7 separate regions of the Homo sapiens genome follow, and all the other regions are linked to region 4. The links come from fine-mapping of genetic effects on gene expression. A gene starts in region 4. Each other region holds a variant in brackets. All regions are shown on one strand. Distances are between the middles of the regions.

Evidence for each region. PIP is the estimated chance that this variant, and not a neighbour inherited with it, causes the effect.
Region 1: its variant is fine-mapped to the expression of RTN3 in whole blood (TOPMed, PIP above 0.99). The same link has a PIP of 0.9 or more in blood mononuclear cells.
Region 2: its variant is fine-mapped to the expression of RTN3 in whole blood (TOPMed, PIP above 0.99).
Region 3: its variant is fine-mapped to the expression of RTN3 in whole blood (INTERVAL, PIP above 0.99).
Region 5: its variant is fine-mapped to the expression of RTN3 in blood mononuclear cells (TOPMed, PIP above 0.99).
Region 6: its variant is fine-mapped to the expression of RTN3 in whole blood (TOPMed, PIP above 0.99). The same link has a PIP of 0.9 or more in monocytes.
Region 7: its variant is fine-mapped to the expression of RTN3 in whole blood (INTERVAL, PIP above 0.99).

What each region holds. Positions count from the first base shown.
Region 1 is chr11:63,727,138-63,731,304 of GRCh38, forward strand. The region is part of intron 3 of RTN3 (reticulon 3); the gene reads left to right. Among named protein-coding and RNA genes, the nearest start is that of ZFTA, 40 kb to the right of the region's middle. The variant C/G (reference allele first, on the strand shown) is at 2,403.
Region 2 is chr11:63,978,815-63,982,976 of GRCh38, forward strand. No RefSeq gene overlaps it. Among named protein-coding and RNA genes, the nearest start is that of OTUB1, 5.5 kb to the right of the region's middle. RefSeq lists an enhancer at 1-488. The variant G/A (reference allele first, on the strand shown) is at 2,144.
Region 3 is chr11:63,738,201-63,742,367 of GRCh38, forward strand. All of the region lies in intron 3 of RTN3 (reticulon 3), which reads left to right. Among named protein-coding and RNA genes, the nearest start is that of ZFTA, 28 kb to the right of the region's middle. The variant C/CT (reference allele first, on the strand shown) is at 2,087.
Region 4 is chr11:63,679,169-63,683,335 of GRCh38, forward strand. It overlaps RTN3 (reticulon 3), which reads left to right and starts at 2,332. Exons shown (of 9, transcript NM_001265589.2): 1 at 2,332-2,610. The coding sequence starts at 2,469. RefSeq lists a silencer at 2,505-2,624.
Region 5 is chr11:63,619,933-63,624,099 of GRCh38, forward strand. The region is part of intron 1 of LNCROPM (lncRNA regulator of PLAAT3 mediated phospholipid metabolism); the gene reads left to right. It overlaps ATL3 (atlastin GTPase 3), which reads right to left. Exons shown (of 13, transcript NM_015459.5): 13 at 4,155-4,167. Among named protein-coding and RNA genes, the nearest start is that of LNCROPM, 5.7 kb to the left of the region's middle. The variant C/A (reference allele first, on the strand shown) is at 2,292.
Region 6 is chr11:63,766,273-63,770,439 of GRCh38, forward strand. It overlaps ZFTA (zinc finger translocation associated), which reads right to left and starts at 2,503. Exons shown (of 5, transcript NM_001144936.2): 1 at 2,212-2,503; 2 at 1-32. The coding sequence starts at 2,350. RefSeq lists silencers at 1,920-2,219, 2,440-2,489, 2,620-2,829, 2,850-3,319. The variant A/C (reference allele first, on the strand shown) is at 1,977.
Region 7 is chr11:63,719,160-63,723,326 of GRCh38, forward strand. RTN3 (reticulon 3) reads left to right here. Exons shown (of 9, transcript NM_001265589.2): 3 at 1-1,873. Among named protein-coding and RNA genes, the nearest start is that of RTN3, 40 kb to the left of the region's middle. The variant A/T (reference allele first, on the strand shown) is at 1,942.

The sequences.
Region 1 (4,167 bases), 48 kb after region 4:
AGACTCTATCTTGAAAAAAAAAGTTTGCAGTTTGAATCTAACCAAATTTATTACATGTTAAAACAAAAGTAATGATACTCTCCAGAGGAATAGAACACAGTCTGGAATTTGTACAGCATAATATTCACAATGTCCAGGATATAATCCAAAACTACATGTTTTAAGAACCAAGAAATTATAACTCAGTCTGAAGAAAAAGAGACAATCGATAGAAACTAACTGCATGTGTTGGAATTAGGAGTCAGGATTTTAAGGGTTTTCATTTTAATCACTCAAAGAAGTAAAGGGAAATATTCTTGTATTGAATAAAAAAGAAAATCTCAACCTAGAAATCGAAACAAAAAAGAGTCAGGTGGGGATTCTAGAACTGTAAAATATAACCACTGAAATTAAAATTCAGCAGGTGACCTTAACAGCAAAATGGAGATGACAGGGGAAGAAGCTGGTGAACTTGATAGCATACTAAAGAACAGAAAGAACACATATTTTTTAAAAGTGTCACCAGAGCTTCAGAACCCTGTGGGACAATATCAAAAGACCTAACTTTGGCCAGGCACAGTGGCTCACGTCTGTAATCCCACCACTTCAGCACTTAGGGAGGCCGAGGCAGGAGGATCACTTGAGCCCAGGAGTGCGAGACCTGCAAAACCTATTTTTTATAATTGGAGTCCTAGCAGGAGAGGAAAGTGAGAGAGAGACTGGAGAAGGACATATTTAAAGATAAAATGGCTGAAATTTTCTTAAATTTTATGAAAGGCACATTTACTGATGAAAGACGCTCATCAAACACCACCTACTAGGATAATTACAAAGAAAACCATACCTTGGTGTATGTGTCGGGGTCCCCAAGATAACCATCAGGGCCAGTGATTTGCTAGAAGGACCCATAGGACTCATAAACTGTAAACTAGCAGTTAATGGTTTATTACAGCAAAAGGACATAGGTTAGAATTGGCCAGAGGAAAAGACACACGGGATAAAATCTAGGAGAGATCAGATGCAAGCTTCCAGGTATTGAATGGAGTCATACAGGGATGTACTTAATTCTTTTACAGTGATGCGTGATAACATGTGCAAAGGATTCCCAACCAAGGAAGCTCTTTCAATCTTTGGTGTCTAGCACGGCATGCAGTGCCCATATGACTGAACTCAGCTACTCAGACCCCAGACCCCCAGAGCAAAAACATGTACTGGCAATAAATCATATTGTTAGGATAAATTTATCTGATACAGCATGGCCTAAGACCTCAGGCATGCAAAAATACTTATGAAGCAGAATATTCAAAGGGCTCAGAGGCCATCTCCAAGGAGCCAGCAAAGGGCTAGTCCTGAAGACAGACCTTTCTTTGGCATGTGCAGGGCTTGGCATTCTAGGCCTGCTGAGTTTTCACCCTTTCCTATACAGTGTATCGTAGTCAAGTTGCTGAAAACCAAAAATAAGGAGAAAATCTTGAAAGTAGCTAGAGAAGAGGCTGGGCGCGGTGGCTCACGCCTGTAATCCCCACACGTTGGAAGGCCGAGACAGGTGGGTCACAAGGTCAGGAGTTCGAGACCAGCCTGACCAACATGGTAAAACCCCATCTCTACTAAAAATACAAAAATTAGCCGGGGTGGCAGTGCACACCTGTAATCCCAGCTACCCAGGAGGCTGAGGCAAGAGAATCACTTGAACCCAGGAGGCGGAGGTTGCAGTGAGCCGGGATTGCGCCACTGCACTCCAGCCTGGGCGACAGAGCGAGACTCCGTCTCAAAAAAAAAAAAAAAAGAAAAAAGAAAAGAAAGTAGCTAGAGAAGAATGACACAGGGAAATGACAATTATAATTAGAGCTTACTTCTTACTAGAAACCACAGATGTTTAAAAGGCAGTAGAGTAACATCTTATAAAGTGCCCAACAGGGAAAAAAAACCTGTCAACCCAGGTTTCTGTATTCAGGAAAAAAACAACAAAAAAAACAAAAAAACTGCAAGATTAAAAGACATTTTTAGATAAAAGAAAACTAAAAGAATTCTACCAGAAGACCTGCACTACAAGAAATGCTAAAGGAAGTTTTTCAGATTAAAGGAAAGTGATACCAAATAAAAACTCAGACCTTTAGGAAGGAATGAAGAGAATTGGAAGTGGTAAACACCTGGGTGAATATGAAAGGCTTATTTTTTTCCTCTTAATTTCTTAAAATATATAGGATTGCTTAAAGCAAAAATTGTAATAACGTGTATAGAGGTTATGATGTTTATTTCTTAGGACAATTATAACAGAAAAAAACGAGTATATGGACTGTACTATAGCAAAGGTTTCTGCTTTTTTTTTTTTTTTTTTTTTTTGTTTGTTTGAGACAGGATCTGGCTCTGTGGCTCTGTATCCCAGTCTGGAGTGCAGTGGTGCAATCATGACTCACTGCAAC[C/G]TAGACCTCCTGGGCTCAAGCAATCCTCGTGCCTCAGCCTCCCATGTACCTGGGACCACAGGTGCATGCCACCACACCTAGCTAATTTTTTTATTTTTTTAGTAGAGACAGAGTCTCATTATGTTGCCAACACTGGCATTGATCTCCTGGGCTCAAGTAATCCTCCCACCTTGGTCTCCCAAAGTGCTGGGATTATAGGCATGAGCCACTATGCCCAGCCTGTTTCTACATTTTTAATGTAATGGTACTATAAATATATATATATTTGGAGACAGGGTCTCGCTCTGTCACCCAGGCTGTAGTGCAGTGAGTGGCATGAACACAGCTCACTGTACCTCAACCTCCCAGGCTCAAGCAATCCTCCCACTTCACCTTTTTGGGACTATAGGTATATGCCACGATGCCCAACTAGTTTTTAAATTAATTTTATTTTTATTTATTTTTTGAGACAGAGTCTCACTCTGTCACCCAGGCTGGAGTGCAGTGGCGTGATCTCAGCTCACTGCAACCTCTGCCTTCCGGGTTCAAGGGATTCTCCTCCCTCAGCCTCCCAAGTAGCTGGGATTACAGGCACTCACCACCACGCCTGGCTTATTTTTGTATTTTTAGTAGAGATGAGGTTTCACCATGTTTGTCAGGCTGATCTCAAACTCCTGACCTCTAGTGATCCACCCTCCTCGGCCTCCCAAAGTGCTGGGATCATAGGCGTGAGCCACCGTGCTCGGCCAAAAGATGTTATTTAAATATAAAGACACAGGTTGAAAGTAAATGGATGGAAAAGATATCCCAAAAAATTTATAAATGTATGCCATGCAAACAGTAAGCATAAGAAGATGAAAGCTTTTATCAGAAATAAATAAGGGACATCTTATCATGATAAAAGATACCAGGAAGTCTTGACAGTTATAAGTGTGTATGTGCCTAATAATGGCTTCAAAATACACAAAGCAAAAATTGACAGAATTGGCTGGGCAATGGCCCATGCCTGTAACCCCAACATTTTGGGAGGCCAAGGTGAGAAGATCACTTGAGACTAGTTTGAGACCAGCCTGGGCAACATAACCCTTAACCCAACATAACCCTACCCTGGAGTTTTTTTGTAGAGACCCCCATCTCTACAAAAATTCAAAAATTAACTGGTTTGGTGGCATGCATCTGTAGTCCCAGCTACTCAGGAGGCTGAGGCGGAGGATTGCTTGAGCCCAGGAGGTGGAGGCTGCAGTGAACCATGATCACACCACTGCACTCCAGCCTGGTGACAGAGTGAGACCCTGTCTCCCAAAAAGGCAGAATTAAGGAGATATATTGGCAATCTGTAATAATTGGAAAATTTAATACCTCTTTCTCAGCAATTAACTAGACACACCCAGGTATCTGAACAGTACAATCAATGAATTTGACTTAGATGGTGGTTATAGAACACTACTCCCTACAATAGCAGAATACACATTATTTTACAAGTGTATAAGGTATGCATTCATTGGTATCGATAATATACTACTAGGCCCACAAAACAACTCAGCAAATTTCAAAGGATTTTTTTTTTTATTTATTTATTGGAGACACAGTTTCACTCTGCCTCCCAGGCTGGAGTGCAGTGGTGTGATCTCAGCTCACTGCAACCTCTGCCTCCCGGGTTCAAATGATTATTGTGCCTCAACCTCCCGAGTAGCTGTGATCACAGGCGCGTACCACCACGCCCACTAATTTTTGTATTTTAAGTAGAGACAGGGTTTCACCATGTTTGCCAGGTTGGTCTCGAACT
Region 2 (4,162 bases), 300 kb after region 4:
CCTCGAGGAAGACATGGCTTTACCTCTCCTTTGCATCCTCTTTGCTGGGGTGACTTGGTTGATTTCTGAAAAGACACAGGTTCAGTCTCCCCTGTGGAGCTGAGGCTGCCAGGACGCCTGTGCCTGGAACAGTGGGCAAAGATGTCAGGTGAGAGGGGAGGGCTGTGGTTGGCCTCAGGCCCTGAGTGTCTGAACACACGTCTTCCTAGCTCCTGTTCTGCAGGTTGTTTCCTGATTTATGTTGACAGAGCTGAGGGTGGACCTGACTCTCCTGCCGTAGCCTGGTCTTGCTTGGCTTTTCTGCGTGATGCCCAGGGAAGCCTGTGGGGCCCAGTGCCTGATACCGTACTGGGTTTAGCTCCTGCCATAGCTGTTTCCCTGAGCGTTAGGAAATTGTCCTCTGCCTCCTAGGTGGCTCCTTTCCTTCCACACAAGCCAGACTTTGTATATGAGGCTGAAGGGTCAGGGCCTAGTTGGAGGGCCGGGGAGAAGCTGCCTGGGCCTGTTGCCCCTAGTGGGGTTCAGAATGCTGCAGGTGTGCCCGGTGGGAGCATCGGCCAGGGAGGGGAGAGCCTATGTTGGATCTGGAGCCAGGATGGGGTACTGACCTAGGAGAATCCACCTGCCACATACAGGTATCACAACAGGTCCCTTGTTTCTGGATGGAGGGTCCTCATGGCCATCTTCCACACAACAGGACCACCCCTTGTTCTGTGCATGGTTCTGGGAGGCTTTTCTGCTTACATTAGTCCCTGTGGAGGTGGGACCTGAGCGCCCCCTGACTGTCCTCTCAGGCCCATCTCCTGGCCTGGCTGGCAGCTCCCTGGCCCTGGGGACCAGCCACTGCGGTGTGGGAGGCCGGGGCATTCCCACCAAGCCTGCACTTCTTGAGTAGAGGGCCCTGAGTGTCCTGGCCCTTGGTTGACTCAGGGCTGCTTTCCTCTGGCTGTGGGCACAGATGAGGTGCTGGTCTCATAACCACGGGGCTGCACACAGCAAGGACGTGGCACTGGAAAAAGTGTGATCTTGAGTTTTTCTTTTTTTTTTTTTTTGAGACGGAGTTTTGCTCTTGTTGCCCAGGCTGGAGTGCAATGGCACGACCTTGGGTCATTGGCAACCTCTGCCTCCCGAGTTCAAGCGATTCTCCTGCTTCAGCCTCCCGAGTAGCTGGGACTACAGACATGCACCACCACACCCAGCTAATTTTGTATTTTTAGTAGAGATGGGGTTTCTCTATGTTGGTCAGGCTGGTCTCAAACTCCCGATCTCAGGTGATCCACCCGCCTTGGCCTCCCAAAGTGTTAGGATAGGCATGAGCCACTGTGCCCAGCCTTCTTTTCTTTCTTTCTTTTTTTTTTTTTTGAAGACAGAGTCTTGCTCTGTTGTCCAGGCTGGAGTGCAGTGGCACGATCTTGGCTCACTGCAGCCTCCGCCTCCCAGGTTCAAGCAATTCTGCTGCCTCAGCCTCCCAAGTAGCTGGGACTATAGGCGCAGGCCACCACACCTGCCTAATTTTTGTATTTTTAGTAGAGATGGGGTTTCACCATGTTGGCCAGGCTGGTCTCCAGCTCCTAACCTCAGGTGATCCTCCTACATGGACCTCCTAAAGTGCTGGGATCACAGGCGTGAGCCACTGCACCCAGCCTGTTGTCTTGAGTTTCTTTTCTTTCTCTTTTTCTTTTTTTTTTTTTTGAGATGGAGTCTTGCTTTGTCACCCAGGCTGGAGTGCAGTGGCGCCATCTCGGCTCACTGCAAGCTCTGCCTCCCGGGTTCATGCCATTCTCCTGCCTCCGCCTCCTGAGTAACTGGGACTACAGGCACCCGCCACCACGCCTGGCTAATTTTTTGTGTTTTTAGTAGAGATGGGGTTTCACTGTGTTAGCCAGGATGGTCTCAATCCCCTGACCTCGTGATCTACCCGCCTCAGCCTCCCAAAGTGCTGGGATCACAGGCGTGAGCCACCGCACCCAGCCTGTCTTGAGTTTCTATGGTAACTCCACTGCCCTGCTAAGGGTTTGATTGGGTGTCCTCCATTTTTGTGCCCCTGGAATTGAATGATGGGTGCTGGTCCCCCTCCGAGGAGGACTGCTCCAGCCCAAAGTTTGATTGATTGAGCCACTGCCCCAACCTGTGCAACACCAAT[G/A]GCTCCAGGCAAGTCCTTCAGGACCCTGGTCTGAAGAAGCCCTCAGCAAGCCCAGCAGTTCCTCCAGCCCCTCTTCCTCCCACAACCTGCCATGTCCTGCATTTGTGGGGATGGGTGGGGTGATGTATGTAGGGGTGGGCAGGACAGTGTAGAGTTTGAGTGACCTATCACGTTTGAACCCCAAACTCCTTGGTCCCCTGTGTGGCCATTAGGTCTGAAATCCGGTCTTCCACTGGCCTACCCTTGTCCCCAACCAATTCAGGGCCCTGGAGCAATTCTCTATAGAGAAAGCAAGGATCCTTATACCCCAAACATTTTCTGTGTCCACATGTGTGGGTTTCTGTGCCTGGTGTGCATGCTGACTGGAGAGGCTAAAGTCCCGGCAGGTGCTGTAATGTCAGGAACAGTGGTCTGGGAGTGGGGAGGCTTGGGCTTGAGGCCTGGCATGGCCACTGAACTGTACGACCTTGGGCAAGTCATCTGGTCTCTGAATCTCAGTTTTGTAAAATGAAGATATTGTGGCAGACAGAATAATGGCCCCCCGAAAATGCCCATGGTCTACTCCCTGGAACCAGTGAATATGTTATCTTACATGGCATGGGGGCTTTGTAGATGTGAATAAGGTCATGACCTTGAAATGAAAGGCTATCCTTGGAGATCCAGGCGGGCGCAATGTCGTCATAAGTCCTGAAGTGAGAAGCACTTAGCCTACCGTTGCTGGCTTTAAGGACAGAGGAAGCGGGCCATGAGCCAAGGACTGCAGGGGCCTCTAGAAGCTGGGAACAGCCCTCCTTTACAGCCAGCAAGAACATGGGGACCTTGGTCCTACCTTCTGCCAACCCGAACGAGTAGGAAGTGGATCTCCTTTAGAGCCTCTGGAAAGAAATGCAGCCTGCAGACACCTTGATTTTAGTCTGGTGAAACCCAGACTTCTGACCTCCTAAAGTGTAAGAGAGGCTGAGCATGGTGGTTCACACCTGTAATCCCAGCACTTTGGGAGGCTGAGGCAGGTGGATCACGAGGTCAAGAGATCGAGACCATCCTGGCCAACATGGTGAAACCCTGTCTCTACAAAAAATACAAAAAATTAGCTGGGCGTGGTGGTGGGTGCCTATAATCCCAGCTACTCAGGAAGCTGAGGCAGGAGAATCGCTTGAACCCGGGAGGCGGAGCTTGCAGTGAGCCGAGATCGCACCACTGCACTCCAGCCTGGGGAACCGAGCAAGACTCCGTCTCAAAAAAAAAAAAATTGTAAGAGAATAAATTTGTGTTGTTTTAAGCCACTAGGTTTGTGGTGACTCGTTACGGAAGCAATAAGGAAAGTAATGCATCATGTGGTGCTGTGAGGCCCTGGGGAGGGTCTGGGCCCAGCTGCTGGGACCGTCTGCAGGCATAAAGTGAAGTGAATGTACAGCACTTACAGTGGGTGCCCCAGCGAGGACTGGGGTGGTGGGAGTTGCTTGGGAGGGGCTCTGCCTGCATTGCCTCTGCCCCTCTGCTTGCTTTCGGCCTTAGGAGGTCTGAATCCTGCAGGTGACTCACAGCCCAACTTATGGCCCTGAGGCATAGACCCTGCTCTGCCGCATCAGCCTTTGCTGCTGTCAAAGCCTCCCTAGACCACGATTTCAGGGCTGCTGCCTGGAGACTCTCGTGGGTACAATGCAAGGTTTATGTGGGGGCCAAGCATGCCCCTACTCCCGCTGTCTGGGCAGCTGCCCGACTCCCAAGCCTGCACCGAGAATGGTCGCCTAATCCCCATGTGTGGCCCACCCTTCCAGGCTTTGGGCTGGCCACACCTTCCTGTGAGGACTGTGGCTGTTCCAGGGCCCATGCCATGCCCCTGTTGTCTTGGTCCATTCAGCCTGACTCCCTTCCCTGAGAGGCAGAGGCAGAAGAGATTGGGTGGGTCTGGAGCCATGTGGCCCCTTGGGGCCTCTGGGCTGTTGTGTAAACTTCCTCTAAGGCTGAAGTTTCACAGTCCCTGAGTCCCACTATGGGGTCTCCTCCCCTCCCTCCACC
Region 3 (4,167 bases), 59 kb after region 4:
TTCCTTTTTGAGGTTATAAAACATGGCCTTTTTTTTCCTTTTAGTTATTTCAGGCATGTTTGAGTGTTCTTAGGGATGTGTTATAGACAAGTTTTAAGAAACTGTTGCAAGGAAGGTGGAATGAATTGGAGATTTATTTGTTCTTAAAAAATGAAGTGGCTGGGTTCAGTGATTCACGCCTGTAATTCCAGCACTTTGGGAGGCCAAGGAGGGCAGATTGCTTGAGCCCAAGAGTTTAAGACCAGCGTGGGCATCAAACTGAGACCCCCATCTGTACAAAAAATTTAAAAAATTAGCCAGGCATGGTGGCATGTACCTGTAGTCCCATCTACTTGGGAGGCTGAGGCAGGAGGATCACCTGAGCTCGGGAAGTCGAGGCTACAGTGAGCTGTAGTCACACCAGCCTGGGTGACAGAGTGAGACCCTGTCTTTAAAAAAAAAAAAAAAAAGAAGGTAAAGCTGACAGACTACTAAACCTTGAAATTTCTTTCACATTTGTTCCTTTTCAGAATAAGTATTTGAACAGCTCTTCTTTTCTACCTTTGAGGTGTATACTTGGGAGAATAAAGTCAATTGACTTTTGGAAATGGCTAGTTAGAATCAAAACAAGAGCTTTCCCCAAATTCGGTAATAAAATTAACGGGTGAGGAATCAGTAAGGTTTACTGCTGTTCCTCCTGGAAATGGCACAAGACTGATTTCCTTTTTCCTTAGCCTGAGATTACCATTGGATGTGTTAGTGCCCTCTTCAGGTGTAACTTGGGTACTGCAGCCGGCGTCCTTAAATAACAGGGACAAGAAATAGATACTTTAATAAAATAAAACTTTAAAATAAATACCTTAAAGTTTTTAAAATAAAAGTAATATGGCCACATTACAAAAGATTTGGAAAATAAAAAGAAGGAATCAGTCGTAATTCCACCAGCAACGTAAACTCTTGGTGCAGACATTCCTTGTCAGATGTTTCATCTGTCATTAGCAAAATAATATAACTGAAAAATTAGTGATTTTACTTATGTAATGAATCACGAAAAGAGAAAAAAGTAAGGTCCTTTAAATGAAAAAAAATTAAGTGATATGATATTAAAGATAAAGTTGTAACCTGAAAAGTAAGGGAACATTGACTTCGTTCTTTTGAGAATTTTTGGCTTTTTATTTTTCCAGTACCTTTTGAACTAGCTTGGGTCACTTCCCTGTAGGACTTTAGGAAGAGACTAGCCAAGGCTTCATTCTTTCTCTATAAGGTTGTGTACTAGTGTGGCAGTTCGTTAGCCCATTGCCTCACAATTCTCTTCTGTTTTAGAACACCCAAGATAACACATAGCACACCCAAAGAAAAGGACATTCCCTGTCTGTATCAGTGGCTCTCTCCAGTAGTGATTCTCTACCTGACACATAACCAGAATCAAGCAATAATTTGTCCATAGCTTTAAAAAGGTGACATGCACCATCAGGAGTCAGGATCTACTCCCCATCCCACGTCCTTTATCCCATCTCACATGCAGCTGAGAGTCACTGACTTGGACAGTCTTCTCTAAAGAGTCTGCTCATAGAAGGTAAATTTAAGACATAAAAATGTTTAAGACTCTTAATCAAAAGACTTTAATTTTTTCTGATAAATTCAAAAAGATAGACTTTAACCAGCCCTGATGTTTGAGTGTAGATGATGAGGGAGAAAGAAGAGTGAACCCTATTTCTGTATTTGTCTTGGGTTTCTGGGTGGATGGTAGAACTATTTTCTGATCAGGGAAGAATGTCAGTCAGAAATGATGTTTTCTTTGATGTGTGGAATTTGAGGGGCTGAGATGCCTCAAAGTGATCCCTTCTGTTTCCGTAGCTTCAAATTACTACCTACATGTTGATAACTCCCAAATCTATACTCTATGTTGGTCTGGTCTGCCCCATAGGTGATGTATCATACTGCCTCTATCTCCTGGTCCTCTGTCTCCGTATATCATTTACACACCAATCTATTTAATCATAGTTCTGATAGCGCAACACTTTTTCATAGAAAAGTTTATATGGAAGTTTGATACATAAAATAGATTTGGTTAATAAGGCCCCTTCTAACCTCCCCATCTTAGTTT[C/CT]TTTTTTTTTTTTGAGACGGAGTCTCACTCTGTCACCCAGGCTAGAGTGCAGCAGTGTGATCTTGGCTCACTGCAGCCTTCACTCCCCAGGTTCAAGTGATTCTCCTGCCTCAGCCTCCCAAGTAGCTGGGACTACAGGTGCCTGCCACCATGCCTGGCTAATTTTTTTTTTTTTTTTTTTTTTGTATTTTTAGTACAGACAGGATTTCACTATGTTGGCCTGGCTGATCTCAAACTCCTGACCTCGTGATCCATCTGCCTCGGCCTCCTAAAGTGCTGGGATAACAGGCATGAGCCACCGCGCCTGGCCTTTTTTTTTCTTTTAATAGAGATAGGGTCTCACTATGTTGCCCAGGCTGGTTTCAAACTCTTGGAATTCAAGCGATCCTCCAGCCTCCACTTCCCAAAGTGCTGGGATTACAGTCATGAGCCACCTTTAATTTCTTTGTATCTTACTGGCAACAAAGAGGAAAGGAAAAAATCTTGTTGCTCTATAGCTAACTTTAACTTCAATTCTTAAATTTTCTGTTACAATTGTAGCAGAGGTTGGCAGTCAAATGAATAATAATAGCTGATATTGTGTTACTATCTAATCAATAGTATTCTGAGCACTTCTACACATTAATCCACTTAATCCTGGCAACATCCCTATGAAGTTGATCTTGTATTATCCTATTTTACAAATGAGGGACCCGATGCACAGAGAGATTGAGTGTCTTGTCCAAAATCACAGAGCTGGCAAATGGAAGAGGATACAAACTCAGGCATTCTGGAGCCAGAGTCATTTCTGTGCTGTACTAACTCTAAAGCTGGGGATAAAGTATTTTACTAGGTAGGGATCCATGGCCAAGTGGAAGCCAGGAAGCATTAAGGGGTGAAATAATCTTTATTTTATTATAGTTATTTATTTATTTATTTATTTATTTATTTTTTGAGATGGAGTTTCGCTCTTGTCGCCCAGGCTGCAGTGCTGTGGCTTGATCTTGGCTCACTGCAACCTCCGCCTCCTGGGTTCAATCAATTCTTGTGCCTCAGCCTCCTGAGTAGCTGGGGCTACAGGCGTGTGCCACCACGCCTGGCTAATTTTGTATTTTTAGTAGAGAGGGGGTTTCACCATGTTGGCCAGGCTGTTCCCAAATTCCTGACCTTAAGTGATCCACCCGCTTCAGCTTCCCAGAGTGCTGGGATTACAGGCATGAGCCACCGTGCCCAGCATTTATTTTTTTTTTTTGAGACAGCGTCTCATTCTATTGCCCAGGCTGGAATGCAGTGGCATGATCTTGGCTCACTGCAACCTCTGCCTCCCGGGTTCAAGTGATTCTACTGCCTCAGCCTCCCCAGTAGCTGAAACTTACAGGTATGTACCACCATGCCCAGCTAACTTATGTGTTTTTAGTAGAGATGGGGTTCTGCCGTGTTGGCCAGGCTGGTCTCGAATTTGTGACCTCAGGTGATCTTCCCGCCTCAGCCTCCCAAAGGGCTGGGATTACAGGCATGAGCCACTGCGCCTGGCCTGAAATAATCTTTAAACATCTCTTAATGCACAATTGTCTGTTTCTGGATTTTCTATACCATTCTATTGCTCTATTATCTTTCGACCAGTACTATAGCATCTTGATAATGGTAGCTTTATATTTAAAATCAGGTCATGTTAATCTTCTAACTTTATTTTTCAAAGTTGTTTTGGCTCTTCTAGGTTTTTTTTTTTTTTGAGATGGAGTCTCGCTCTGTTGCCCAGGCTGGAGTGCAGTGGCGCGATCTCAGCTCACTGCAAGCTCCACCTCCTGGGTTCACGCCATTCTCCTGCCTCAGCCTCCCAAGTAGCTGAGACTACAGGCACCTGCCACCACACCCGGCTAATTTTTTGTATTTTTAGTAGAGATGGGGTTTCACCGTGTTAGCCAGGATGATCTCGATCTCCTGACCTTGTGATCCACCTGCCTCGGCCTCCCAAAGTGCTGGGATTACAGGCATGAGCCACCGCGCCTTGCCTGGCTCTTCTAGGTTCTTTACATTTGAATTTGCATAGGAATTTTAGATTAGCTTGTCCATTTTTACAAAAACCTACTAGGATTGTAGGC
Region 4 (4,167 bases):
AGGCTGAACCAGAACTGCTTGAACCCGGGAGGCGGAGGTTGCAGTGAGCCAAGATGGCACTACTGCACTCCAGCCTGGGCAATAGAGCAAGACTCCATCTCAAAAAAAAAAATGTCTGAAGGGTCTGAAAAGACCAGTAAGACCACGTGCATATCTTGCTTTTTAACTTCTCTGCTGCTACATATTAGGAAAATGGACTTCCTTCCAGCTGGAGTCTCCAGATTGTAGCAAGTGCTGTCAGAGTTAGCTACCAGCATCATTTATTTCCTTATCTAGCACTTAATAATGTAGATTTTTGTTTGTTTGTTTTGTTTTAAGGAGCAGAGCGTTTAATAGACAAGAAAGAAGGAAGGAAGAAGAAAACAGCTCCCCTAATAATGCGATTTTTAAAAAAACATATGCACGTATCAGAATGGGTAGATAACTGGCTTGGTTATCCGATCTGCTATTATTTCCCTTTGCCATCCAAGAGACAGTTTGCTGCATTATCAGCTGATGCAGTAAGTGCCAGGGTAAGGTATTAGCCACAAAGTTATTTTGGGAAATATTTTTCTATGCCTTTTTCAGAGCATTGCAAAGGCCAGGAGTCATCCTCCCACCCCCTGGGGCTTTACCTGACCTTAAAAACTCAAGGGCAGATGTAGTACACAGCTTGTTCTAGAAGATTTCCACTGGTCAGATCGCCTTTCCCCTCAGTGGCAGCTTGGCTGACCACCTCCCGCTTCATGAGGCTGCATCTTTACAGGATCTGCTGATCCTGCAATTGTACTTTGGGTCATCGATTGCTGCTTTAGCAGTAACAGTCGACAGCCTTGATTTTTATTATTTCCAGGATACAGTCCTCCTTTTTTTTTTTTTATTTGACGGAGATTTGCTCTTTCACCCAAGCTGGAGTGCAATGGTGAGATCTCTGCTCACTGCAACCTCTGCCTCCCGAGTTCAAGCAATTCTCCTGCCTCAGCCTCCCGAGTAGTTGGGATTACAGGCGCCCGCCACTACCCCCAGCTAATTTTTGTATTTTTAGTAGAGACAGGGTTTCACCACATTGGCCAGGCTGTTCTTGAACTCCTGACATCAGATGATCCACCTGCCTCGGCCTCCCAAAGTGCTGGGATTACAGGTGTGAGCCACCGCGCCCAGCCAACAGTCCTCCTTTAACAAAGACTATGCACCTTTCCAATATTTTGACCAGATGTAGGGAGAAGGCTTCGAATTTGGCAATCCAGCCCAGGAAAAGCAAAAAATGAACAAAATCCAATATAGGCTAGAAATCTGGTTTTAAATACATGTTCTGCTAAGGACCTCTTTTAGTCTATGAATAAAATTCAATTATGTGTATTTTGTGCCTTATTCTGATTTTTTTTACTTTTTTTTTTTTTTTTAAGGCAGGAAGGTTCTCGCTGTGTGGCCCAGGCTGGACTCCAACTCCTGGGCTCAAGTGATCCTCCCTTCTCTGCCGTAGCAGAGACTACGGGCCTCTGCCACTGACTGCGGCCTTATTCTGAATTTTTAATATCTAATTTTATCATCCCCCATAATCACAGCCAACATTTTCTTATCTCCTGGCTCTTCTTCATCAGCTCAGCATTTTTTTTCCCTCTCTAAAATATGTCGTCTCTATCTGACAGTCTATTCGGAGGAAAAGAGAACCTTAAGACCCAAGGTGGACCCTTCTCTGGCAACAGTAACGAGATAAGAATACGAAGCAGGTTCTGCGACTGCATTGCAATGTGATTGGAATGAGTAATCGTTTTTCATTCTGTATAGCATCTTTCTCCACCTACCAAATGGGGGGCCGTGCCATCTCTGCCTCTCGGTGAGGAGATATTACGACACAGCCAGTGAGATTCACAAAGCACCTTGCAGAGTGGGCCTACTCTACACTCTGGTTTTCAGTTTTTATTGGAGTCACAGGTGGGAATGCATCAAACAAAAGATATAGGCTCTGGAATGTACGGGAAAGAGAGTTTCCATAATGGAAGCCCAAAGACATTTCTACCGTTAAAATACATAATCTGCCGACCCTAAAACATTCACATAAAGAGGCAGGAGGGAATACTATCCCGCAGCTCCACGATTAGCCGCAGTCGTGGGCGGGGATTGGGGCTTGGATACGCCTTTTGCGTCTGGTCCCCAAGGGACGCTCCCCAACCCTCGGCGCGCGAGGCGCCGCGTGAGGCCGGCTTTGCCCCTCCTTCCCTGCAAGAGCGCAGAGGAGCGGTTCTTGCGCCTGCGCCCTGCGCCGCTGCGCGCTTTGGCACCCGCTTGGGGCCCTTTGTGCGCATGCGCGCTCGCGCTCCCGCCCTCTAGCTGCGCTCGGCTGAGTCAGTCAGTCTGTCGGAGTCTGTCCTCGGAGCAGGCGGAGTAAAGGGACTTGAGCGAGCCAGTTGCCGGATTATTCTATTTCCCCTCCCTCTCTCCCGCCCCGTATCTCTTTTCACCCTTCTCCCACCCTCGCTCGCGTAGCCATGGCGGAGCCGTCGGCGGCCACTCAGTCCCATTCCATCTCCTCGTCGTCCTTCGGAGCCGAGCCGTCCGCGCCCGGCGGCGGCGGGAGCCCAGGAGCCTGCCCCGCCCTGGGGACGAAGAGCTGCAGCTCCTCCTGTGCGGGTAAGGCGCGCGGGGAGCCCCCGCCCTGGGAAAGAGGGCGAGCGGGAGCCTGGGGGCTGGGGGGATTAGGAGGCGAGGCGGGAGGAGGACGAATTACCCTCGACTACTGACGGCTTCAGCCCCCCGGGGACGAGCGTTTGGAAAATGGGCAAAGGGGAAGGGGAACGTAAGGTTGTGCAGGCGGTGAGGAAATAGCGGGGTGTGAGGAAAACAGGTTGGGGGCGGGGAGATAGTCCAGTGGGCGTTAACGCCAAGACTGGGCAGGTGGGGAAAAATACCAGCTCGTGGGATAAAATGGAGAGTTGCTCGATGCATATGGTGAACCTGGGTGATTTAGTGAGGATTAGAGAGATTGAAAGGATACGGGCAGGTGGGTGGTGGGAGAAACAATTTGTTACTATTTTTGAGGGGATGGTGGTGAAAGGGTTGCATTGCAGGTTTGCAGACAGGTGTTGACATAATCAAGCATTCATGATAGTCCTCCAAAATATTTTTGGCTGCCCATGGGAAGGATGAGGAAGTTTAATGGAAGCATTGTAGCCTGTTTTTTTTGTTTGTTTGTTTTGTTTTTACTGTTTTCGGCTAGACTCCATGAATGCCGGATTTTTCTGAGGCTCCGAGGTAGAAGGAGGCGTGATGAGAATAGCTCAGGGAAGATTTGGGAGGGAGCTGCTAATGGTCCAAGATGGATCCGTGGCTGCATCTGCAACAGCCTGCTCTTCCCTGGCGCTGCGTGGGGGTGGGGACACGCAATCAGTCGCTTATATTCTAGAAAATAGAGTCATGCTAAGCTATCAACATGTTTTGATTTCATGTTTTCTGTGGGCTACTATTGATCGAAGTATAACAAAGGGGGGTGTTTATTGCAGAAAGGGGGAGGGGGAGAACATTCAGACAAAGCAAGGGCTGGTTGAGTCCCCTTCTCCCATCTCTGTGAAAGACTAAGAACGAAGCTGCAGACCTCCTTTAGTTTGCATTGTATACGCGTCTGCCTGCTGGTAAGAGCTGCCTGGCAAGCTCCCCTTATGCAGAAATCTGCAGTGCAGATGCCTTCTTAAGGGGGGAAAAAAAAACCACCATGGGCAGGTGGTAGTTCTCAAAGGAACGGAGTCTTTGAAGGGAAAAAAAATGCCTTTTGTCAAAGGCAGGGCCGTAAATTCGGGAGAGTAGAGATAATTTTGCTCTCTATTTAGTTATGTTAAAGGATTTTGATCATTTTTTTTTAATGCTTCGTTGTCTCCTTTGGCAGAATCTTGGGTTCTAAAGAAAAAATTTCTGATCTTAACCTTAAATGTATTATTCTCTACGTGTTTTTCTAGCAGTGAATTTTCACCTGTCTGAGAGCTTTGGAGCCCTGTTGGATTTTTTCAGTGTGGTTATGGCCATTTCAGTAGAAACAGGCAGTATCAGGAAGCTTTTGCAGATAAAAGAATGAGGCAGCAAATTTAGAACCCTGTCTCCTTTAAACCACCAGCCTTTTCTCCAAATTTTTGTGTTCTGGGCTAAGGTCCAGATGAACAGCGACTTCCTTATAACTTAGCAACTTGATCTTTTTGC
Region 5 (4,167 bases), 59 kb before region 4:
AAAATAAAATAAAATAAAATAAAATAAAAATAAAGTGCTGAGCCTGACGTCTGGCACGTGGTAAATCCTCACACAACACACGGTGGCTGTTATTAACATGAGAATAGGTATGTGCCCATCAACATCACATGATCTTCACCAGCTTTCTGACAAGGAGACTCAGAGGCAATATAAATACCATAGCTTTATGTGCCTTATCACTCATCAAACAAATTACGGAGCACCCTGAGCCAGGGACTGACTATAAGGTCATCCAAACCCAGGATGGACAGGTTCGGTTTTGAGGCAGCCGGGCTGACTTCTGCCTTTCCTCACCCTCTGCTTCCAGAAGCACCCAGATGTCACCTCCCTTATCTTTTCCTGTTGCTGTGCCAGAAAAAAAGCAAAACAAAACCAAAAAAAAATCATACTGGGAAGGGGGAACAGTACTGAGGGCTATGTATTTTCACTTCTCACACAGTTCTCAAAAGAGGAGCTCTCTAAGAAAGGCCCCGGGACTTACTGAGAAACTGCCCCATGATGCCACACCATCACCAACAAGACGGTCCTTACCCCCCGCACAGAGCAGGTGGACAGGTGGACTGTGATGCCAGGATCCAACTAGTGTCCACCTCCAAAGCTTCCAGGCTTTTCTGCATAGCATGGCTATGAAGCCCCATTCCTCTTGTGATAAGGAGGAAACTATTAATTTTTTTTTTTTTTTGAGACGGAGTCTTGCTATGTCTCCCAGACTAGAGTGTTGGAGTGCAGTGGCATGATCTCAGCTCACTGCAACCTGCGCCTCCCAGGTTCAAGCGATTCTCCTGCCTCAGTCTCCCAAGTAGCTGGGATTACAGGCCCACGCTACCACGCCTAATTTTTGTATTTTTAGTACAGACAGGGTTTTATCATTTTGGCCAGGCTGGTCTCGAATTCCTGAACTCAGATGATCTGCCTGCCTCAGCCTCCCAAAGTGCTGGGATTACAGGCATGAGCCACCATGCCTGGCCAGTTTTTAAGTATTTGTAATCTCTCCATTCTCTGCCTTCTAAGGAGGATAGATGGATCCTCCAGAATCCATTGTTTTGCTGACTCTCTGAGGAGGAATAGCTGAGCAGGTGGGAGAAAATTGCACAGGCTAATTTGCTTTGCAGGCCTAATAGGCCCAATGGGGAATCTGAGCAAGCTGGGTGACACACAGGAAGGCCAGGGCAGGAGAAAGAAAGGGTGCAAGGGTGACGAGAGAAAGTGAACAGGGAAACTGCATTTTGTTTTTTTTTTTTTTTTTTTAGGGAAACTGCATTTAAAGGGAAGCTGTTTGCAATGCTTCTTTGCACACAAGGAACAGAATCCACAAAGTTCACAACAAGGAACAGAAACCACAAATTTCACAACATGACAACATTCAAAATGGGAGTATGTCTCAAGTGCTCCACCAGCCAGCTGAATGCAGGGTTTTCACAGGTGTAAAACATGTGACTATGCCAATTTTGATAGTTTCCTCTGACCAGAAAAATCAGGCTTTTATGAAAGAAACCAAAAGTGAAGTATAACTTCCTTCTGAATCCCCTTTGAAACCCAAGTCCTACTGAAGAGGAAAGAGAACAAATCCCTATTGAAATGCCCTGAAGAGCTTCCACTGCCTAAATGTGCAGCATAACCATCTCTACCTTCTCTTTAAAAAAAACATTCTAGAGGCTGGGCACGGTGGCTCACGCCTGTAATCCCAGCACTTTGGGAGGCTGAGGCGGGCGGATCACAAGGTCAGGAGTTCGAGACCAGCCTGACCAACACGGTGAAACCCCATCTCTACTAAAAATACAAAAATTAGCATGGTGGTGCGTGCCTGTAATTCCAGCTACTCAGGAGGCTGAGGCAAGAGAATCGCTTGAACCCGGGAGGCATAGGTTGCAGTGAGCCGAGATTGAGCCACTGCACTCCAGCCTAGGCACAGAGCGAGACTCTGTCTCAAAAAAAATAAGATAAAAATAAAAATAAAACATTCCAGAAGGCCAGGACTGGTGGCTCACGCCTGTAATCCCAGCACGTTGGGAGGCCAAGGTGGGTGGATCACATGAGGTCAGGAGTTCAAGACCAGCCTGGCCAACATGGCGAAATCCCGCCTCTACCAAAAATACAAAAATTAACTGGGCATGGCAGCGGGCGCCTGTAATCCCAGCTACTCAGGAGACTGAAGCAGGAGAATCGCTTGAACCCGGGAGGCGGAGGTTACAATGAGCCAAGATTGCACCACTGCACTCCAGCCTTGACGACAGAGCAAGACTCAGTCTCAGAGAAACAAACAACAACAA[C/A]AAAAAAATTCCAGAACCTTTAACCTGGGAAATGTCCAGGTTTTGTGTCTCTTGTTGTTCAATGGCCATTGTTAACTGGAATTGGTTATCTGTAATGGATTATTTGTTTTGGTCTGCCCAGCAGTCTTTCATTTGGTGACTCCATGTGGTTCTGGTGGAGCTGTCAGTCATAGCACGTGGTCATCACTCTGACTACAGACACCTGCACCCTAGGTCTGGCTGGTTATAATGCCTCAGAGGCCAGGCTAGTGTTGACCATGGAAGGAGCATGACTCAAGCCAAACAAATCAGAAGCCTTCTCTGGAATGGAGATATACACACGTGTTTTTTCATAGGTAGCTCAAAAAAAAAAAAAGCCTGTTTCCTCAGGGCACATTAAAGTGGGATGACATAAACCTGGAACCACTGGTGCCTGTCCTCCCCTGGGGCATGGAGGAAACCTATCTGCAACAGCAGATAAATAGGTCACTGAACACTGAAATAAGAGCCCTGTTGACATTTGAGTTCCTCCAGTGCCTGATGTCAGCTTTACCCCTATATGTCCGATTACAAGAAACTTTTTCCCAGTTAACAATTTTTTCCTTCTTTAAGCTAATTAGAGTTGGACTTGTCTTTTGCAAAGTGATATATGATAATCAAAAGCAAGAATGTCAATGCGCCAAAGACAAGCCAGCTTGCTTGACTGCTCCCCATCTATACAGGACCGCATTCGTCACCCTGGTCCTTCCTTCTCCCCAGTTTATGCTGAGAGCGTCTACACATCAGTGTAGATGGTGGCACCCAAGTCCTGAATCTTTGTTTTCACCATACTCTTCACATCATCAGCCTCTGAGTTTGCCCCTTCCCTGCTAAACTGTGATGAACTCAAGGGCAGCACCTGGCAAAGCACCTGACACATGGTAACAACCAGGGATGGATGGTTGGATAGAGAAAGTCTGCTGATCCCACCCAGTGTTTCCAACTTGGGAAGAAATCTTTTTACTGTAGGGCTAAATGGGGTATGTCTAGCTATTTGTCGTATTTGAGAAGTTCAATTCAATCTCCTCACTGTGTCCATCAGTGAAAGAGAAAGCTTTAAGTAGAGATTTACGTTCCCTGCCCCCACCCCTGAAGAGCAACTGTTTAATCAGCTGGCTCCAGATGGGGCAACTAAATGAAAGTGCTACAAATTCAGAGGTCTTCACAAGTCCATGTTACTGTAAATGAAATTTGCGTAATTTTTTTTGAGAGACAGGGTCTTGCTGTTGCCCAGGCTGCAGTACAGTGATGGGACCGTAATTCACTGCTGCCTCCAACTCCTGGGCTCAAGTGATCATCCTGCCTCAGCCTCCAGAGCAGCTAGGACTACAGGTGCGCACCGTCATGCCTGGGTTTGTTTTTTGTTTTTTCCAGAGACGGGGTGGAAGGTGTCTCCATATGTTGCCCAAGCTGGTCTCAAAACTCTTGGGCTCAAGTGATCATCCTGCCTCAGCCTCCCGAGTAGCTAGGACTACAGGTGGGTGCCACTATGCACTTTTATTTTGTAGAGACAGAGGTGGAAAGTGTCTCCATATGTTGCCCAAGCTGGTCTCAAATTCCTGGGCTCAAGCATTTCTCCCACCTCAGCCTCCCAAAGTGCTGATTACAGGAGTGAGCCACGACACCTGGCCCTTGTGCTCACTTTTAAGCAACCCTGCCAACAATAGAGCCTTCTCCAGGACTATGCTAGTAAGACACTTGTTCAGTGTCGTTTTGTAGGACAGAGAAAGCTAACTCAAACCACATTGCCACTATCCCGTCAGAAGTCTTATTCACTTTGCCAAGCCAAACTATTTCACAGAACCTCCCATATTAAAAACACAGAGAAAGAAAACACAGATAACATGGTGTTGTGATC
Region 6 (4,167 bases), 87 kb after region 4:
CAAGGCACCCCCTTCCAGCTGAAGATCTTGCCCTGAAGAAGGGGAAAGGGAGACAGTTTTTCAATCTCTGATTTCCAGGGAAAGAGGCGAGGGCTTTGATGGTGAGCCCTGAGAAAGGGAGCTGGGGGAGGGGGTGTTCCGGGGCAGGAAAGGGACGGCAACAGCAATAAAAGGGATGGTAGAAGTGGGAGCCAAAACATTAGCCCTTTACAAAGGGCAAGGACCCTTTAAGAGGAGATCAAGAACAAAAGGACGCAGGGCACTGTGGAAATAGCTCTGACTTTTTAAAAAATAAGGTGAGGGCCAAGGAGCCAACCAGCTCTGTAAGGTGCCCTTTCTGGACAAGAGCCGTAGGGAGAAAGCCAGGAGAGCAGCAGGCCAGGGCGGTTCCAGCTGGAGCAGAGCAGGCAGTGGGGCCAGACAAACAAAGGGGGCATCTGTCTACAGCCAGGGCTGCACACGGGACCCACCCACCTGGGGCCCCCGCCAGGAGGGCCCCACCCACAGGTCTTCTCCCTTTTTCCAGTAATGCTTCAAATATAGCTTCCTGAGACTCCCATTTTGGGGATGGGCTAGGCATTGTCAGTTCCCCAAATCTAGGCCCCCACATGGGAGGGATCCCCAAGACAAAGCTGCCAACATCTCCAGGGAAAGGAGTTTCTGAGACTGAAACTTCTCCAGATTCTGGAGGAGCCAATGACCCTGTAAAGGGATGGCAGGAGGGCCACCAGAGTGACAACTAATGACACTGCGGCAGGGAGTGGCCACCATCCACTGAAGCCCATTAAGTCTTTCTGGGGCTTTATTTGCTGCTCTGGCAGGGAGCCGGCCACTGCCCAGCAGTCAGAAGGGCGGGCACTGGAGAGGCCCCACTAACCCAATGGTGTTCCCTGTGCCAGACACCCACCCAGAGCAGTCCCCTACCCTCCCTACAGTTCCCACCCCTCTTGATTTAGAAAAATGGTCTCCTGGGCACACAGGCAGGTTCTGGTCATTCTCCCAGTGGAGAATCACAGGGTTGGGAAAACAAAAGACAGGATCAGAAAGGGCTCCTGTCACCCTTGTGGAAGTTTTTTTGTTTTAGTTTTTATTTAAGTAGATCCATAGAATCCACTGGCTTCGGAGTCATAGGCCTGGGTTCAAGTCCTGGCTTCACTGGTAACTTGCTCTGTGACCTTTGATAGGTCATGTCCGCACTCTGGGCCTGAGCTTCTTTGTCTGCAACGACACTGGCTAGCTGGCTGGTCTCTAAGCATCCTTCCAGCGCTGGATCCAGGCTAGTCTAAGGTGGATTGGCCCTTTAAGAGCCGAAAAAGGGGGAGGAGCCGAGGTTCTTTAAAAACAAAAGGGGATGGGGCGTTTCTGGGAGGGGAGAGACCGGGAGGGGAGCCTGGAGATTCGGGCAGAGTCTCCCTGGCCTGGAGGAAACCCTCAAGGGTCTTAAGGCGTGACCCTGCAGCCGGGAAATGAGTCAACAGTCTCCTTTGAGAGCGAACGAGGAGGACTGGTTGGTTCCGCTAGAGCTGACAAATTAGGGCAAAAAAAAATTCTGAAAAGAAGGGAAGGGAGAATGCACCGGCCGGAGGGGTGCCTGCCTTTGTGGGCGAACCCATCGCTTTAAAAACTGCCCGCGGTGGGAAAAGATGGTGTGGGCCCCCGGGGCGCAAGCGATGCACTTTCCTAGGGAGAATGTGGGAGAAAAGAAAAAGGGTGCATGTCTCTCACAAGGCCACGAGACGAGAGGAGCAGCCCGATTTAAAACAGCAGAGTTCGGAGCTGAGCTCAGCTCCGCTGGGGAAAAGCCCCCGAAGGGGACCCAGGGTCTGGGCGGACTTTTGAGAGAAAGCCCGATTAGGGAGACCACCTGGGAGTCTGAAAGAGAAAGGGGCGGGGGCCAAAGTCCAGCCTCGCTCCGTGGCGCCCTGCCCCGTGGGGCCCCTCGGGCCTGGCCCCCAAGGCGGGGCGCTGCGGGCGGC[A/C]GCGGGGCCCTTTAAGGGGGAGGCGAGCCGCCCGAGCCCCGCGAGCCGACCCCGGGAGCTGGGCGGGGGGCTCCCCCGCCAGCCCTGCAGCCGCGCTCCGCGCCCACCAGGTGGCGCCCCCGGCCGCCCTGCCCGCGTCCCCCGCTTTGTTCGGCGGCGGAGAGGGGCCCCGAGCCGCAGCCCTCCCTTCCCCCACGCCGGGGCCCCCGCCCGGGCCGCCGGCCCCAGCTCTTACCGCCTTCGTCTTCCTCTGGCTCCGCGCTGCCGCTCGATCCGGCGGGCGGCAGCCGTCGGCCCCGTGCCGAGGCCACTGCTGGCCCGGGGCCGCCCCTGCCGCCGCTGCTCCGGCTCCGGTGGTCCCCGCCGGGCTCCATGCGCTGCGCTGCGGAGCGGGGCCCCGGGGCGGCGGGGCGCGGGGCCGCGGGGCCGGCGGCAGCCCGCGCGGAGCGCTCGCTGCGCGGGGCCCCGGGGCGCGGGGCGCATGCACGGGGCGGCCGGCCGCACGGACGGCAGGCTGCTCGCTCGGCGGCGCGGGCTGGACCGGGGTGGGGATTCCTGTCTGGGGCCCCTGGGGCTCCTTTAAGGGCTCCTGGGTAAATTTAAAGGGGCCGCGCGCTATTTCCTCCTGCCAGCTCGCGGGGGGCTGGGGGGAAAGGCGGGAGGCAACGAGCCCAGCCGAGGCTCAGCAGCCTGCGCCCGCTCCGGACGCTAGGGGCACGGACCTCGCCGCCCCCGCGGGCCCGCACCGCCGCCTGCGGGGCTCCGGTCCCGGCTCCCAAAGGGTCACTGAGGTGGCGAGGGGCGCCCGCGTCCGCTGCGACGCGCTTCCACCCGGGCTCGGCTCGCGGCCACCGCCCCCTCGGGGCATCTCAGCGCCGGGAGCGCCCGCTGAGGAGGCCGGGGTCCCTGCCCGGGGCTGCCTCCCGCCGCGCAAGCGGGTCGCGAGCTCCGTGCGGGCCCCGGAGCGGCCGCTACTGGCAGGGGCCCCAGATGGCTGCGGCCCCGCCGAGAGGGTGGAGCCGTGGGGGCGGCCGCGCCCCCTCCCGCGGGAGCCGCCCGGGAGCGCTGAGAGCTCGGGCTTCTCATGGGAGGGGCGGACAAGCGAGGCTCCCCCGAGCCAGCCAGGGGTGGGGGCGGCGGCCGCAGTGACTCGGGCTGGGGAGAGGGGCGCACAGCAGACCCGCAGAGAGCCGGCTGCGCCGGGGCCCGACCCTGCGGGCTGGAGGTGGCCCCAGGATGGAAGCCGGGAGGAGAGGGCGTGCGCGGCGGTGACTCAGGATCCTGCCCCCGCAGGCCTGGGGGTGCCTGACGAGGCCCTTGACGCAGCCCCAGACCCCCGGCCCGGCCCTAGGAAGCGAAAAATGCTGGCCCCGGGCGGGGTGTCGGGCACCTGGGGAGGCGCGTTACCACGGCTCGGAAGCGCTGGGCGGACCCTGGCTGCGGGTCCCGGGGCGCCCCCGGTCCCCCAGCTCCGGAGAAGCGGAGCGCAGGGACCCGGAGAGGCAGCCGGGGCGCAGCAGCCTGGGGTCCTCCTGCGAGGACCGGCGGGAGGAGCAGGTGCTCGCTTTGCCTGAGGTTGGGCGCCCACAACAAAGGCGATTCCTGGAGATCCAAATTACAGGGTGCGGGAGGCCTGCAGGGTCTTCTTATCTGGAGGCGGGTTTTGTTCCCTGCACTGGCGAGTTACCCAGCTGTCGCCGATGGCAGTTCGTCCGCTTGTCACCACCTACTGTGTGCCCGCATGCTTTCAGACGCTGGACACACAGCACTGAAAAACATGGGCAAGACCGATACTGCCTGTGACTTTCCTTCTCAGAGGCACCCACAGCCTCTGAAAAGGAAACCGCTCCAGCCTTTCGGGAGCCATGGGAATTAAATTACTTGGAACACAGGAAACCTGTCCCCGAAGTGCTTATGAGGAGGGGACAAGAACTAAGATTTCTTAAGTGCCTCTGGGCTCTGTCGCCGCGGAGATGTCCCGTCTCTTCCTCAGCCCCCATGTTGACGTGCTTGAGACTCCACCTTGGGTAAACTGAGTCTCCTTTCACAGCTCTGCTCTCTTCGCGGCAGGCCCTGCGCTCAGGGGGGCGGGGGGGGGTTGCACTTCCTCTCACCCACTGGGGTCAGAGGCCCTGATGCTGATGGGTGCCACGCAGGCCCTGAGATGGGAGATTCCTTAATTCATTATGTC
Region 7 (4,167 bases), 40 kb after region 4:
GTAGAAGGCATTTATACATATTCTTTGTCTCCATCCAAAGTTTCAGGAGATGATGTTATTGAAAAGGATTCCCCTGAATCACCATTTGAAGTAATTATTGACAAAGCAGCATTTGACAAAGAATTTAAAGACTCATATAAGGAGAGCACAGATGATTTTGGTAGCTGGTCTGTGCACACTGATAAAGAATCATCCGAAGACATTTCAGAGACTAATGACAAGCTTTTTCCACTGAGAAATAAAGAGGCAGGACGTTACCCAATGTCTGCATTGCTCAGTAGGCAGTTTTCACACACAAATGCAGCACTGGAAGAGGTGTCCAGATGCGTGAATGATATGCATAACTTTACTAACGAAATACTGACTTGGGATCTGGTTCCCCAAGTGAAACAACAGACCGATAAATCTTCTGACTGCATCACAAAAACTACAGGACTTGACATGAGTGAATATAATTCAGAAATTCCAGTTGTAAATCTTAAAACTAGCACTCATCAGAAAACTCCTGTATGTTCTATTGATGGGAGCACTCCCATCACTAAATCAACAGGTGATTGGGCAGAAGCATCTCTCCAGCAAGAAAATGCTATTACTGGAAAACCTGTACCTGACTCTTTGAATTCCACAAAAGAATTCAGTATCAAAGGTGTGCAAGGCAATATGCAGAAACAGGATGACACACTTGCAGAATTACCTGGATCTCCACCTGAGAAATGTGACTCTTTGGGTTCTGGAGTGGCCACAGTGAAAGTGGTTTTACCTGATGACCACCTGAAAGATGAAATGGACTGGCAGAGCTCTGCATTGGGAGAAATCACAGAAGCTGATAGTTCTGGTGAGTCTGATGACACAGTAATAGAGGACATCACAGCAGATACATCATTTGAAAATAACAAAATTCAGGCTGAAAAACCTGTTTCCATTCCAAGTGCTGTTGTAAAAACAGGTGAAAGAGAAATCAAAGAGATTCCCAGTTGTGAGAGAGAAGAAAAAACATCTAAAAACTTTGAAGAATTGGTCAGTGACTCTGAGCTGCATCAAGATCAGCCTGATATTCTTGGAAGGAGTCCAGCTAGTGAGGCAGCATGTTCAAAAGTACCCGATACGAATGTCTCCTTAGAAGATGTGAGTGAAGTTGCTCCTGAAAAGCCTATTACTACTGAGAACCCCAAACTTCCTTCAACAGTGTCTCCAAATGTTTTTAATGAGACAGAATTCTCATTAAATGTGACAACATCTGCCTATTTGGAGTCATTACATGGGAAAAATGTTAAACATATAGATGATTCCTCCCCAGAGGACCTGATAGCAGCCTTTACAGAAACCAGAGATAAAGGAATAGTAGATAGTGAAAGAAATGCTTTTAAAGCAATATCAGAGAAGATGACAGACTTTAAAACAACTCCTCCTGTAGAAGTCTTACATGAAAATGAGTCCGGTGGTTCTGAAATTAAAGACATTGGAAGCAAATACAGTGAACAAAGCAAAGAAACAAATGGAAGTGAGCCTCTAGGTGTTTTCCCTACCCAAGGTACTCCAGTAGCATCTCTTGACTTAGAACAAGAACAGCTCACAATTAAGGCTCTTAAAGAATTAGGTGAAAGACAGGTTGAGAAGTCAACTTCTGCACAGCGTGACGCAGAATTGCCTTCTGAAGAAGTACTGAAGCAAACTTTCACATTTGCTCCAGAATCTTGGCCACAGAGATCATATGACATCCTAGAACGTAATGTCAAGAATGGATCTGATCTTGGGATTTCCCAGAAGCCCATCACTATCAGAGAAACTACTAGGGTAGATGCTGTTTCCAGCCTTAGCAAGACTGAATTGGTAAAAAAGCATGTCCTAGCAAGACTTCTGACAGACTTCTCAGGTAACCATTTATATTAGAATACTGCATGTGGTTAATTCTGTGATTGATTACTTATCAGCGTGCCATTT[A/T]TGTTAGTCTGATTTATACCTACAAAATTATGGCTAAAATACAAAAACAATATGCTGTATGATGGGAAAGGCAGATTCTTCTCCTGTCTTTTTTTAAATGATTGCTTGATTTGGTTTCCTTAATATCAATATTTCCCAAAGCAGTAGACCACTTTGTAACATTAATCTTCCCCTAAATATTTTTTCTATGCTCGCTGGGTACGGTGGCTCACGCCTATAATCCCAGCACTTTGGGAGGCCGAGACGGGCGGATCACAAGGTCAGGAGATTGAGACCATCCTGGCTAACACGGTGAAACCCCGTCTCTACTAAAAATACAGAAAAATTAGCTGGACGTGGTGGCGGGCGCCTGTAGTCCCAGCTGCTTGGGAGGCTGAGGCAGGAGAATGGCGTAAACCCGGGAGGCAGAGCTTGCAGTGAGATGAGATCGCGCCAGTACACTCCAGCCTGGGTGACAGAGCAAGACTCTGTCTCAAAAAAAAAAAAAAAAAGAAAATTTTTTTTCTATGCTCCAGTTATATTTCAAGGTACTTCTTTTCTTATAGGTTGCCCCTAAGGTGATATTAGGTGAGAATCTAATATCATCAGGTTCTTACTTATTTACAAAGCTTGTTTTTAAATCTCCATAATTGTCATACTTTTTAGCACTTGGATTTTTTGATATGTGCTTTGTGGAATCTTAGCAATCAAAGATAAAGGAATTCCTGCTGGGAAAGATAGTAAATGAAACTTTTAATTAATGTGATCGTATACTATAGAGATTTTATGCTCTGAAAGTAGGTAACCAGTATTGTAGTACTATTTTGTGAGTAATGCTTAGGAGAACTCATGCATTCTTCTACTTTCTATCTTATTTAATATTCTTCAGGCCAAAACTCATTATTAGATGGTACCAGAAACCCCTTCTCTTGTCTTTTATCTATTTCAAATGATCACTTTTCTAGCAAGTGGCTTTCAGTTAGATTACTGCAAATGCTGTCTATTCTGGGATCTTGGAAAGTACAAGAAAAAAAAAGGATCTTTCAAGCCCCTCTACAAGGGACCCCCATCCTTTAATGTAATACCAAGTTTTACATCTACTGTATGGTCAGTGTTAGGTGCTATGTAGAGGTCTGTGGTTTTTAAACTATTTGATTATAGATCTTTTATCAAATGAAATCATACACAGAGTTGTAGTATTTACAAGAAAATTAGATTTTTGTTAGGCTAAATGTATTTTGTGTTTGATTTTGTGCCTTTTTATAAAGGCATTTTCTTACTGGAAACTGTAGGTAGATTTATCTTTTTAAGTTTTAATATTTAAAATAGATAAATTGTACTTAACCTTACAATGGTATTGTGAGGATTAAATATGAAAATGCAGGTAATACAGTGCCTAGCACATAGTAAATATGCAGTCAGATTTAGCACCAAATACAGGGCCTGCCACATAAGTAGTACTGGATAATTATTTGTTGAATGAATGATATGAATTATTTCACTAACAATTATCAGTGAAAGACATTGAGGCTTTTTGATAAACCAAAAATTTTGAATTACCAATTAAGGATAGCTCTTATACTCTAGCATTTGAAGCTCACTGAATTTGGATTAAAGAGTACTAGGTTCTAATTCTTGCTGTGCTGTGTCTAGAAGTATGACTTTGAACAAGTAACTTACATAACCTTTCGGGGGCCTCAGTTTTAATATCTGTAAAGTGAGGATGTAAAGTGAAGTAGATGGTCTTCAATTATCATTTAAATAATATGATTCTCTGGCTCTGGTACATTCTAGATTTCTTCCTCAGTTGTCATAATTCTTACAGGTAGTAACTTTTGGGCAATAAGGCATATAGGAATTATGCTACAAGAACTCCAGTGTCTAATTCTGGCAAATTCCTGTTTTAGCATGACCTTAGATGACTAGTCTAATTGGTTCAGCATCTTCCTTTGTTAATGTGATGATCATTATTTTGCCCTGCTTTGTATGTTGCAGTAAATAAAGTGCTGTGTAAATGCTAATTATTAGTGATTATCAACTGAATTATTTAATCTAGCGTGAGAGATGTAAAGGGCTATGGAAGTTCAGGATATTTGTCACTGACCAAAGTCTATGATTAGTGTATGTTTTTAGATTGTAATTAAAGAAGACCGGTATAGTTAGACCAAGAAGTTTAAAGGCCTTTCTTGCAGCTTTCAAAAGTGAAAACCTTTTAAAATTGTCTTATTTATGAATAAATCTTTAAAA